Homo sapiens: one gene and its partner. The protein of the gene in region 2 purifies or fractionates together with the protein of the main gene of each other region. This does not show direct contact. Each region holds a gene or a part of one and is shown on either strand. Other genes may lie near its edges.

Evidence for each region. The genes of interacting proteins can lie anywhere in the genome.
Region 1: the proteins of ITLN2 (region 2) and LONP1 purify together in Homo sapiens (co-immunoprecipitation; 2 studies listed by BioGRID and IntAct, with this or other methods). This does not show direct contact.

Annotation. Positions count from the first base shown.
Region 1 is NC_000019.10:5,691,317-5,696,157, forward strand, and holds the end of LONP1 (lon protease homolog, mitochondrial isoform 1 precursor), read right to left. Parts: coding exon 4,738-4,841; intron 3,586-4,737; coding exon 3,445-3,585; intron 3,237-3,444; coding exon 3,071-3,236; intron 2,454-3,070; coding exon 2,236-2,453; intron 2,147-2,235; coding exon 1,982-2,146; intron 893-1,981; coding exon 716-892; 3' UTR 518-715; downstream 1-517. Other genes in the region: RPL36 (large ribosomal subunit protein eL36), read left to right, coding at 3-137, 216-305. UniProt on the Homo sapiens protein: ATP-dependent serine protease that mediates the selective degradation of misfolded, unassembled or oxidatively damaged polypeptides as well as certain short-lived regulatory proteins in the mitochondrial matrix.
Region 2 is NC_000001.11:160,951,799-160,959,294, reverse strand, and holds the start of ITLN2 (intelectin-2 precursor), read left to right. Parts: upstream 1-4,485; 5' UTR 4,486-4,553; coding exon 4,554-4,568; intron 4,569-4,844; coding exon 4,845-4,908; intron 4,909-6,561; coding exon 6,562-6,675; intron 6,676-7,496.

The DNA of each region.
Region 1 (4,841 bases), on a different chromosome or scaffold from region 2:
AGCGTCTGACCAAACACACCAAGTTCGTGCGGGACATGATTCGGGAGGTGTGTGGCTTTGCCCCGTACGAGCGGCGCGCCATGGAGTTACTGAAGGTCTCCAAGGACAAACGGGCCCTCAAATTTATCAAGAAAAGGGTAGGTGGGCGCTGCCGGCCGAGGGGCGGGGTGGGATGGGAGTCAGGGCCGGGCTGACGGCGGCCTCGTCCCTGGCAGGTGGGGACGCACATCCGCGCCAAGAGGAAGCGGGAGGAGCTGAGCAACGTACTGGCCGCCATGAGGAAAGCTGCTGCCAAGAAAGACTGAGCCCCTCCCCTGCCCTCTCCCTGAAATAAAGAACAGCTTGACAGAAGCCCTGGCTCTCCTGCTGTCCGTGGGTGGGTGTGGGTGTGTCGGGGGCCCGCAGTCCCCTGTCTGGTGCCCGCTCTGAGCCACACCCTCTCCGGGTGCTGCCTGGTCGTGAATCAAAAGCCGTGGCCCGCCCACCCTTCCCGGGGCAGCAGGTGAGGAAGCCGCCGTACTGCAAATGACTTTAATCATTAAATAGCTTCTATGCCACACTCTGATTAAGCCGACTGAGGTCCCTGGGATCTGGGTCACTGGACCGAGCTGCTCGCTCGGTGGCTCCACTGCCAGGTCCGGGCGCGCTCCCCACAGCGCTCAGTTCTGGCCCAGACAGGGCCTGACATCCGCCGCCTGCAGTCCCGGGGTGGCCGTCACCGTTCCACGGCCAGCGCCTCTGCCTGCTCGTCCGGGAAGGCGATGTCGAAGATCTCCCGGTAGTGTTCCACGAAGTGCACCTCCAGGCCCTCGGTGATGAAGGCTGCCAGGTCGTAGAAGTCCTTCTTGTTCTCGGCTGGCAGGACGATGCACGTCACCCCTGCGCGCTTGGCCTGGGGGCAGAGTCAGGGTCAGCCCTGCCTGGGCCTGTGGGAGGGCAGCAGGTGTGCTAACCTCCAGGAACGAAAGGGCTTCCTGGGGACCGGCGATACACAGTGATGCCGGGTTCTAAGCAGTAAGTCCCAAAACCCACCAGGGTCCCCGTCTCCCACGGGGAAACAGGCTCAAGGCAAAACCACTGGCCTTGGCTCCAACAGCCTGAGAGCAGGAGCCAGGGCCTCCCCACCCCCTTATCTAGGAAGTCTGGCCGTGCGGTGGGAGCAGTCTCAGGGCTCTGGATGAGCCACACACCCACGGCCTCACATCCAGAGGTCAGGCAGTGTCTGGGGCCTGAACAGGGTTCCTGTGAGCATCTGCATCTCTGCCCCCAGGCCCTGCGTCACCCCCCTCACCTCCGGAGGCTACACATATCTGGAGTAGATGCCAGGCACAGCCCCACCACAGCCCCTTGAAAGGACAGCAGTTCCCACTGTCACCGCACACTGACTCCATGGACAGTGAGCCTCCCAATTTGCCTCCACCATTTTATCATCTAGGAAGTCTGTGCCTGGTGTCCAATTCAAGGTGGTCACAGCCACTTGACCATGCCTCCCTCGTGGTGGCATCTCCTGACTGACTGCACCAGGCTTCCTAGACACATGGCAAGTGTGGTCCAGTCTGGGGACAGGCAGGGATGGGAGGGAAGAGTGGGGACAGTGGCGCTCCAACCTGCTCAGCACCCTTGGAAGAGGCCAGCCCCTGGCCAGGGGCTCCAAACACCCCCGCCACCAGTAATCCTAAACGTCGTCCCCATCTCTAGCCTCTCCCTTGGCGCTGGGCTGCCTGGGAAGAGAAGCAGGAGCCACCCCCCCAATCCTACTGGGGAAGCCAGTGGAGGCTCAGAATGTTCTCCACAAGACTTGCTGTGGAGAAGGCAGCTAGGGCGGTGAGCTTAAGGCCAGCTCCAGGCCAGAGAGACCTGCTTCCAAAGCCCAGGGCTTCCCTCTCCTTGGCCCAGGCAGAGGTTGCATGGCGGGGACTGGGCCTGTCCCGTGGTGGTGTGGGCCCTGCCAGTGCTGTGGGGTGGGTACAGGGACACTCACCGCAATGGTCTTCTCCTTGATGCCACCAACAGGCAGGATCTTGCCCGTGAGGGAGACTTCGCCAGTCATGGCCAGATTCTGCCGGACAGGCCTGCCCATGGCCAGGGACAGCAGGGCCGTGACGATGGTGCAGCCTGCGCTTGGGCCGTCCTTGGGGGTGGCGCCCTGTGGAGGCATGTGGGGATAGTGGGTGAGCAGGTGGCCAGCAGCCCAGGGACTGGGCGGGAGCAGGTGGGAGCGGATGGCGCGGTCACCTCGGGCACATGCAGGTGGATGTGTGAGGTCACCAGGTAGTCATTGGCGGGGGCGTGCTGCATGAGGAAGGCTCTGGCGAAGGTGTAGGCTATGCGGGCGCTCTCCTTCATCACCTCCCCCAGCTGGCCTGTCACCTCCAGGCTGCCATCCTTGTCACCCTTGGCATCCTTGTCCTGTGGCCGTCTCAGGGATGTCTCCACAAACAGCGTGGAGCCTCCTGAAACAGGTGTGGAGCTGTGAACACGGGAGGCCTCGGAGCCCAGGCCGGTGCTCACTCCACCCCTCGGGGCCACTCTGACCGCTCCTGCCCCAGTTTAGCATCTTGGTGCCCCTGGGCAGGGGTTGGTGTCCCATCGTGAGCCAACGCTGGCCTCTACGTTTGCTGCGTTGCGGGTTCCTGGCTCTGTACGCCCCACAGGGCAGCCCCCAGCAGCTGCCAGCCACAGAGGACACGCCCAGGGCTACAAGGCCCAGCTGCCGCTGCCCTGCAGACAGACACAAGCCCTTCTCCAGCCCCTCCCGCACCATCCCCTTTGCCCTCTCGCCTCCTTTGTGCGTGGTGGCCCCAAGGCCCATCTGGATGAGCTTGTCCTTACCTGTAAGCCTATCAAAGTGGCACCCAAATCCATAAGGCCCATGGTGTGCTGCCACCCCCATGTGTCACAGCCTTCCCCTCCCTCAGCCCAGACCCCCTGGGCTCCCAGCACACCACCCCCCGCCAGAGGCCGTTCAGAGCCACCTGAGGCCCACTGCACAGGTGTACAAGGTGGGACCTGCTTGTTCTCGGGTAGAAATGGGAATGGCTTTGGGGTCTTCTCCCGCCACCACGCTCACCCATTGCGGTCCAGGCCAGCCCCATGACCACGCCGGGCGGTGTCACGTCATACATGCGCTCCACGGTGAACACGGGCTTCCCCACGAAGTCCTGCAGGTTCTCGGGCGTCACCTCCACGGACTCGGCCTCGCCGCTGACAATCTTGTAGGCCGATTTCCGTAACACCTGGGCGGTCAGGGCAACACAATGGGCACGGGAAGGTGGGGTGACAGGTGCGGGGTGGTGGGGTGACGGGCACAGAAAGGTGTGACGGGCGCGGGGTGGTGGGGTGATGGGCGCAGGAAAGTGGGATGATGGGCATGGAAAGGTGGGGTGATCAGCGTGGGATGGTGAGGTGGGCGGCAGGTGCCAGGAGGGCGGGCTGGCCGCTCACCTTCTCCACTTGCTTCTGCAGGTTGCGGACACCGCTCTCGCGGCAGTACTGCTTGATGAGCAGCGTCAGCACGTCCGATGACAGCTTGGCCTTGCTCTCATCCAAGCCACACAGGGCGCGAGCCTGGGGCACCAGGTAGCGCTGCAAGGGCAACCGTCAGGGTTGGGTCTGGAGGGACCTTGCCCACCAGCTCAGTCTAGAACCTGGGAGCCAATGCCTCTCCCATGGCCCCCAGACCCTGGCCTGGGAACGAGGTCCCTGATGGTGAAACCAGGGCCTGGACACCCCGCCCTGCCACCCACCATGCCCAGAGGCCCCAGGCCTTTGCTTGTGCTGCGTCCTCTGCTTGGATCCACTTCCTATCCCCCAATGGTATCTTAGATGCCGCTTCCTCCAGGAAGGCCTCCTGGTTGCCCCATGGGCTGGCCCCATACACAGACCCAGGGCCTGTAGGGTGGCTGACTGGTTACGTGGCTGCTGCCCTCAGCACATGAGGAAGGGGACTGGGTCAGGGGCTCCAGGGTCACCCACAGCCCCACACAATTCTTGCCACAGTTCTGAGCTCTAATGGCATGGGGGAGGGCATCTGTGAGACGGACAGAGCCATGCAAGCCACTCTACATCTGCCACTGATACTGGGGGGCACTCCTGATGCCCTGAGGGGTCCCCATGCCCCCCAGTCCTGTCCCCAGGAACTACAGGCCCGTCCCTTGGAGAAGTCAGGCTGGGAACTGGGCCCAGCAGTGGGCATTGAAGCCCCCAGGGGACACGAGGATGCTGGGAGGGCCTCAAGGGCAGGGACCAGTGCCCACCACTGGCTGTCAAAGGGCTCCTAGGGGAGAAATGCACTCAGCACCTTTGCAGAAAAAAAAACACATGAGAAATATGGGCCCCTGCATGCTCCTCACTGAAACCACTTCTCCTCCAAGCCTCATTCTGGGTGGGAGCCACAGGCCCCACTGCTTCCGGCTGCCAGAAACCTTCCCTACACTCTGGGCCAGGTGGGGGCCCCACCATGGGGCAGCCTGGAGGCCCCGGGAGACAGAGTGTGTGGCCTGACGGTGGTGGGCGGTGTTTTGGACAGTCCCAGGCCCTAAACCCTGCGCCCACTCGCGCCACCTGCAGCTGCTCGCAAGCGTCTGGTGTGTCTCTCACGGCCCCATCTGCTCCTCGGCCGCAGGTCCCACCTGTCTCTCCCGGGCCCAGGAGCTCCCAGAGGCACGGCCTCTGCAGGCTCTGGGGGGCGCCCCCTGCTCTGGGAAGGGGACAGCAGTGGGGAGGGGCTGGGCTTACCTCCGCAATGGCCAGCTTCTCCTGGGCCACGTAGCCCGACACGTTGATCATCTCCATACGGTCTCGCAGCGGCTCGGGGATGGTGTCCGTGACGTTGGCCGTGC
Region 2 (7,496 bases):
GTTGGGCCTACAGGTGCAAATCTCCACACCTGGCTAATTTTTTTTTTTTTTAGAGACAGGGTTTCACTATGCTGCCCAGGCTGTTCTGGAACTCCTGGGCTCAAGTCATCCTCCTACCTCAGCTTCTCAAAGTGCTGGGATTACAGTTGTGAGCCACTGCGCCTGGCCCAAAGAAACACTTAATAAGGTTTTGCATTTGATAAACAACTATTTTATATGTACGTGTAAATGTAGGCATTAGCCTTCTTGGAATCACAATATGTTGTTAAGCTGTAATAATTTAAACGACATAGTACTCGTACAAAAATAGATGAATCGACCCTAAGTAAGAACTCATTTAATGCCTACTAAAGGCACTAATTGTGATGAAAGGCGGGGTGGAGTGGCTCATCCCTGTAATCCCAGCACTTTGGGAGGCTGAGGTGGGTGGGTCACCTGAGGTCAGGAGTTTGAGGTCAGCCTGACCAAAATAGTGAAACCCTGTCTCTACTAAAAATACAAAATTAGCCAGGCGTGGTGGCACATACCTGTAATCCCAGCTACTTGGGAGGCTGAGGCAGGAGAATCGCTTGAACCTGGGAAGCAGAGGTTGCAGTGAGCGGAGATCGTTACATTGCACTCTAGTCCGGGCAACCAGAGCGAAACTCCATCTCAAAAAAAAAAAAAAATTATGATGGAAAACAATCCATAAACAATGTTGGGAAAAAAAAATTTGCAAGATGAAGAAAGATCAATTTAGATGTTCACCTCAGATTTACATGAAAATTAATGCCAGAGGTATTAAAAATGAAATTTAAAATATCCAGAATTGGCCGGGCTTGGTGGCTCATGCCTGTAATGCCAGCACTTTGGGAGGCTGAGGCAGGTGGATCATGAGGTCAGGAGTTCAAGACCAGCCTGGCCAACATAGTGAAACCCCGTCTCTACTAAAAATACAAAAATTAGCTGGGCATGGTGGTGCGTGCCTGTAGTCCTAGCTACTCAGGAGGCTGAGGCAGGAGAATCGTTTGAACTCGGGAGGTGGAGGTAGCAGTAAGCCAAGATCATGCCACTGCACTCCAGCTTGGGCAACAGAGTGAGACTTTGTCTTAAAAAAAAAATCCAGAATTTACAAAGAAAGGTACTAAGTGGATAATAAACATTTATGAATATGTAATGGAAGCCTCAGGTCCCCTTTCTTCCAGCTACGTTTTCATTGCCATTCCCAGTAGTTCTGGTACTGCGGGAAAAATCTACTGTAGAAAATTACCCAATTCAACTGAAGAGTGCCAAGGAGACCTATTTTTCTCCTGTGTGTTTCTGCATTTCAGCCAGTTCCTGGGCTCTCATCTATTCCTTATCATCCATCTGTTTGGGGATGCCATTGTTTTTGTCTGGTTTCCTTTGTCCTGTTGTTCTTTCCCAAACAGGACACCACATCTCTTCCTTTTTTCCTCCAAAGCATTGGTAAACACCAAGCTGTTGCATGCATTCTAACTTTTATTGAGTATTTGATGGTGGAAACATGGCTTAGAGTAATTACAACAAAGGGGAGAAAACTGTAAAATTTTGCATTGGCCATTTTCATTCCTAAAATTTTTTTGGATTGGAGGAAGCGTTCATGTGTGTTTTTTAGTACCACCTGGAGTCAATTTCTTTCATTCAACTAATGCATATTGAAGGCCCACTGTGTGCCAGGCATTGTGCATAGGCCTGGACATCTGGTGGACAACCACAGACATAGATTCTGTCTCTATAAAGAAGGAGACAGGTATTAAGCAAATACCTATATAAATACTCAAATAAAAAAATTCAAAAGTTTCAGGAGAAGGAGCTTACAAAATCTTTCCAATAATAGTATCTTAGTATTCAGAGACAAAGGTCCATCAGAGTAGTATGACATCTTCCAGGTTTGTCCTCTATCCTCGTCTCCTTAGATTCCTGTCTGAGTCCAAGAGAGAGACAGACTGCAAGAGACACTGAAAGAACAGTGTCACTGAGGTCACTGAGACACCTGGAGACATGTCCTGGTCTGGTGCCCATCATGGGAGCAGTGAGGCGTTTCCCTTCTCCAGCACCCTATGAGGTGGATGACTTCCATGCCTTGAATAGCAAGAGATGTGCCGGAGGCCTGGGAGTGAGAGGAAGCAGTGCCTTAAACACCAGCAACTTGTCCCGACACCAGATCCAGCATCAGAGGCAGCAGGGATGCCAAATCATACGGTTGGTGTTCAGCTGTGGTGTGTGCCTACTGTGGTTTCAGTAGGCAGTGCTGAAAGGAGTCAGGGTGGGCTGGGAGTATGTGTGGAATGGAGAAATGTTTGTTAGCACACACAAGATGCCCCTTGGGATTATGGACTTAAAAGGGGACCAGAAGTCTCCTTACAATGGGAGGGCATGAAAGCCAGAGAAATTCCTGTCTCATTAATGCTAACTCACCATGACCCCTGGGCTGATGATACTCTAGGGAAGTATCAGTTATGTTAAAAAGAGTTAACAGGCTGGCTCGGTGGTTCACGCCCGTAATCCTAGCACTTGGGCAAGCTGAGGCAGGAGGATCAAGGTCAGGAGTTCTGGAGTAGCCTGGGTAACATGGGGAGACCCCGTTTCTACAGAAAAGAAAAGAGTTTTTTTTGTTTTTTGTTTTTTTTGAGATGGAGTTTCACTCTTGTTGCCCAGGCTGGAGTGCAATGGTGTGATCTCGGCTCACTGCAACCTCCGCCTCCTGGATTCAGGTGATTCTCCTGCCTCAGCCTCCTGAGTAGCTGGGATTACAGGCATGCACCACCACGACCGGCTAATTTTGTATTTTTAGTAGAGACCGGGTTTCTCCATGTTGGTCAGGCTGGTCTCGATCTTTTGACCTCAGATGATCCACCCACCTCGGCCTCCCAAAGTGCTGGGATTACAGGCGTGAGCCACCGCGCCCAGCCCAAAAAAAGAGTTTTTAATAATATGATGTTGATAATTGTACTGTGGTTATACATGACATATTCCTATTATTAGAAAACACACAGTTGGCCAGGCATGGTGGCTTACACCTATAATCCCAGCACTTGGGAGGCCGAGGCAGGTGGATCACGAGGTCACGAGTTCAAGACCAGCCTGGCCAAGATGGCAAAACCCCGTATCTACTAAAAATACAAAAATTAGCTGGGCGTGGTGGTGGGTGCCTGTAATCCCAGTTACTCGGGAGGCTGAGACAGGAGAATCACTTGAACCTGGGAGGCGGGGGTTGCAGTAAGCTGAGACCATGCCATTGCACTCCAACCTGGGTGACAGAGTGAGGCTCTGTGTCAAAAAACAAAACAAAATAAAAAAAACCCATACGCATTTATTTAAAGGTAAAAGCCCATGATGTATGTACCTTACCTTCAAATGGTTCAGAAAAAAATTTTGTGTGTGTGGGTGTATTTTATATACATATATCTATATATATATAGAGAGAGAGAGAGAGAACACGAAAGATAAAGCAAATGGGGTGAAATATTAACAATAGTTGAATCTAGGTAAAGGGCATATATGTGGCTTTATATTATTGTTATTTTTGCAACATTTAATAAATTTCAAATTGTTTCTAAACAGAGTTAATAAAACAATAAAATTACAGCAGGATACATGCAATAATTAGTGTTTGGACAGTGTATAGTGGGACAAAGGAAGGATCCATCAGCTTTGTCTGGTGATGGGGGTGTCAGGGAAGGCCTCATAGAGAAATTGGAGGAAAGATTGGAAGGATGATGTCTTCTTTTCCCATTTATTTATTATTATTATTATTATTATTATTTTGAGGTGAAGTCTTGCTCTGTTGCCCAGGCTGGAGTGCAGTGGAGCAGTCTTGGCTCACTGCAACCTCCACCTCCTGGGTTCAAGCAGTTCTCCTGTCTCAGCCTCCAGAGTAGCTGGGATTACGGGTGCACGCCACTGCACCCAGCTAAATTTTTGTATTTTTAGTAGAGACAGGGTTGCACCATGTTGGCTGGTCTTGAACTCCTGACCTCAGGTAATCCGCCCACCTCGGCCTCCCAAAGCGCTATGATTATAGGTGTGAGCCACTGTGCCTGGCCAATTATTATTCTTAATTAATTAATTTATTTTTCATGAGGTGTCACCTCAGTCTAAAAGGATGATTTCTTGACAGAGTTGTGTCTAGGGGGCCAGGGCATCTGGGGGAGGTGGGAGAGGGAGAACGCAGGGGAGGATTGTGACCTATCCACGAATCTGATTAGATACTGCTACATTGTATGGCCTGCCTTGGCAAAGCAGGATGCCCCTCCTCAGATGGCGACAGTCACCTGTGTGGCCAGGAACACAGCTCCCTGCTCCTCCAGCCAGTCGCACGTCCTTTCTCATTTCCACGGTCCCAGGCTCAGGTACCCTCAGAGGGAAGGGCTTCAGAGGGAGGGGCTAGCAGCCTAGGCTGCTCAGGGTTGGGCTGGGCAGGGCTCAGGTGGTTTGGCTCTCCACAGCTCTCCACATAAAGGGACCAGCACTTCACCCTTCATCAGGATCCTCTGCAGGGGAGCTCCGAGTGTCCACAGGAAGGGAACTATCAGCTCCTGGCATCTGTAAGGATGCTGTCCATGCTGGTGAGAAAAATGTTTTTGATCCATGTGTGTGGGAGCAATGATGCCAGCTCAGGTCTCAGTTTTAGAGATTTAGAGTTTCAGGGAAATGAGCCCATGGCCCCTTGGGTATTTGTAGTGTTGGACAGCCGTGGGGCATATTCCAGGAGGTTTTAGAATGCTCATGAGCCCATCACTTTCCATTTGAGGATTCCTGACTCAGAAAGGTTAGGAAGTAAGAACGAGAGGATGACAAAGGAAGGGCCAGCCAGTGACCTTGTGCATCTTGTTTTTCCTTAGAGGACAATGACCAGACTCTGCTTCCTGTTATTCTTCTCTGTGGCCACCAGTGGGTGCAGTGCAGGTAAATGGCTTCTGAGAGTAGGAGCTGCAGTTTCCTGGGCTCCCCTCTGCTGTGCAGGGCCTGGAGGGAGTAGAGCTGGGCAGGGCTCTGAAGTCAAGGGTCAAAGGGGAAGTTCTGGAGAGGCAGGGAACCCAGGCTAGGCAGCCAACTTGAGGTGTGGACTGGGTGCTGATTTCTGGCCTCTCCTGGGGTCTGGTCTGAAGCAGTCAGGGTGTTAGCTCAGGTATTTCCTAGGGCTTGATTCTCTGCTTCTGTGGCTGTGAGGGGTTCATGGGGTGAGAGAGTAAGAACTGTGTCCCTGCTCAGCTGCTCTTGTGGCCTTGGCCTTGGGATCTCCAGAGGCAGCTGGGTGATCAGTGCTGTGTCCAGGGTACACCCTCCTCTAGTCGCAGAGGAGGATATTGTGAGAATAGAATCCTCACAATTCTATTCTTCCAGTAGGCACAATAGTGATATTTTTTCATTGATACTGGGTTTATTGTTTATTTCAATCCATCAGTTAAAAAAAGCACATTTACATATGTCATCTCATTTGATCTCCATGCGTATAAAGAAGTTATTAATGACATCTTAAAGATGAAGAAAAAGGATCAGAGATGTTAAGTGTCTGCTCAAGGAGGCACTGTCATCAGGGTTTGTCTGGATTTTACCTTGAGTCCTGTAATTTTTTTTTTTTTAGACGGAGTCTTGCTCTGTTGCCCAGGTTGGAGTGCGGTGGCGTGATGTCGGCTCACTGCAACCTCCGTCTCCTGGGTTAAAGAGCTTCTCCTGCCTCAGCCTCCCCAGTAGCTGGGATTACAGGTGTGCACCACCACACCCCAGCTAATTTTTGTATTTTTAGTAGAGATGGGGTTTCACCATATTGACCAGGCTGTTCTTGAACTCCTGATCTTGTGATCCACCCTCCTCGGCCTCCGAAAGTGCTGGGATTACCGGCATGAGCCACTGTGCCTGGCCTGAGTCCTGTAATTTTACACTTTTTCCCGCTCTGCCAGGCTTTTGGAATGATTTCTAGGCTTTTAGACTTATATACATGGCCCTTCATCCACTGGCCTCTGTTAATTTTTCAGCTTTGGTTTCCAGACTTCTTTGTATTACAACATATGTTCCAGCCACAATAAGCGACTGACCTGTAGTTTTTGGCAGGCTGGGCTGGGCTGGGCTCTGTTATTGCTTCAGGCCATCTCATGTGCTTTCTTCTCTTCCTGGGGTGTACTCTCCCCTTTCCTTCCTGTCCTGTAGCCAGCTCCCATTCTCCCATCAAAATCAGCCTGCTCTGAGTTACAGCTGGTCCCTTCCCCAGCAGTTCCCAGGCCTCACCCCCGTTAGTGGGTTTGCCCTCCCATCTCAGTTGGGTCCCTTTCCATGTGCTCCTTCCTTGTAGAATGTAGTCTCTTGAAGAAATGTGTCAAATTGTCTTTGTCCGGTGTCTAGGTAGTTCACACAGTAGGTATTTAATTAAAATTAGTCGAGTGGAAGATTCCAGGTGTTTAACCTATACCAGCTGTTGGATCAGACCGTCTTAGCATAGGGAATCCCTGACCTCCTGGGACTTCAGAGCAGAGTGATGAGTTGATACAGGGGCAGAGATTGGCCAGGAAAGATGGCCTCAGTGGTCAGACTTCTAATGAGACTCATTCTCACATTTTCTAGCAGCAGCCTCTTCTCTTGAGATGCTCTCGAGGGAATTCGAAACCTGTGCCTTCTCCTTTTCTTCCCTGCCTAGAAGCTGCAAAGAAATCAAGGAACGCTGCCATAGTGCAGGTGGTGAGTAATGAACCAACTCAGCATTCTCTCTTTGAAGCCACTTTTTAGCTCAACAGAGCCCAGTCATGGAAATCAGGAGGGACATATCCATATGGAGCCTGTTCTGCCCCCAGCTCCTACTCAAGGAGGTTTCTAGTGGGAATTTTGAGGCTTTTGTGTCCCATTCCAGTCACAAAGTCTTCTGAACACAGAGAGAATGCAGTGTTCCTGGTGATGCTTATGGTGGTGGCAAGAACTGTGATGCGTCTGAGATTTGCCCCTACTTGCCCCAGGTTTATAGATGCTGGCAGAAAACCTGAAACTCCCGAGCCAGAGACAAAGAGCTTTATTAATCACAGAAATAGCAGTAGCCAGAGCATCAGCATTTTCTTGTACTGGGCCAGGTGACATCTGCCCAAGTAGTGGGTTTGTCAAGCTGGCTGACAAATGTGGCTGGCAAGGAAACAACAAACCCTTTTTAGAGCCAGAGAGTTTATTACTCACATAGCTAGCAAGTTCAAGATCGGCAAAAGTGTCAGCTTTTCCCATCCCTTGCCCCACAAGACAGCACAGAAAAGAGGGCGAGTGACAACACAACATGGGCAGTGGCTGAGGAGCCAGTCCATGCTGCCATAGCTGTTTCATAGCCTGTGTACCCTACGGGGTGGGGGTGAGTGAGGCAAAAAGCCTCATACCTCTTCAGAACCCAGGAGATGATGACACAGTTATGACAGCTGTCTCATGACAGCCTCCACGAAAGATGGGAAGGGGGGTGAGAAGTGACCTTGTTGCAGCTCCTCACAAGGTTCCCATCTTTCCATGTTTGGGGAAGACCACAGGCT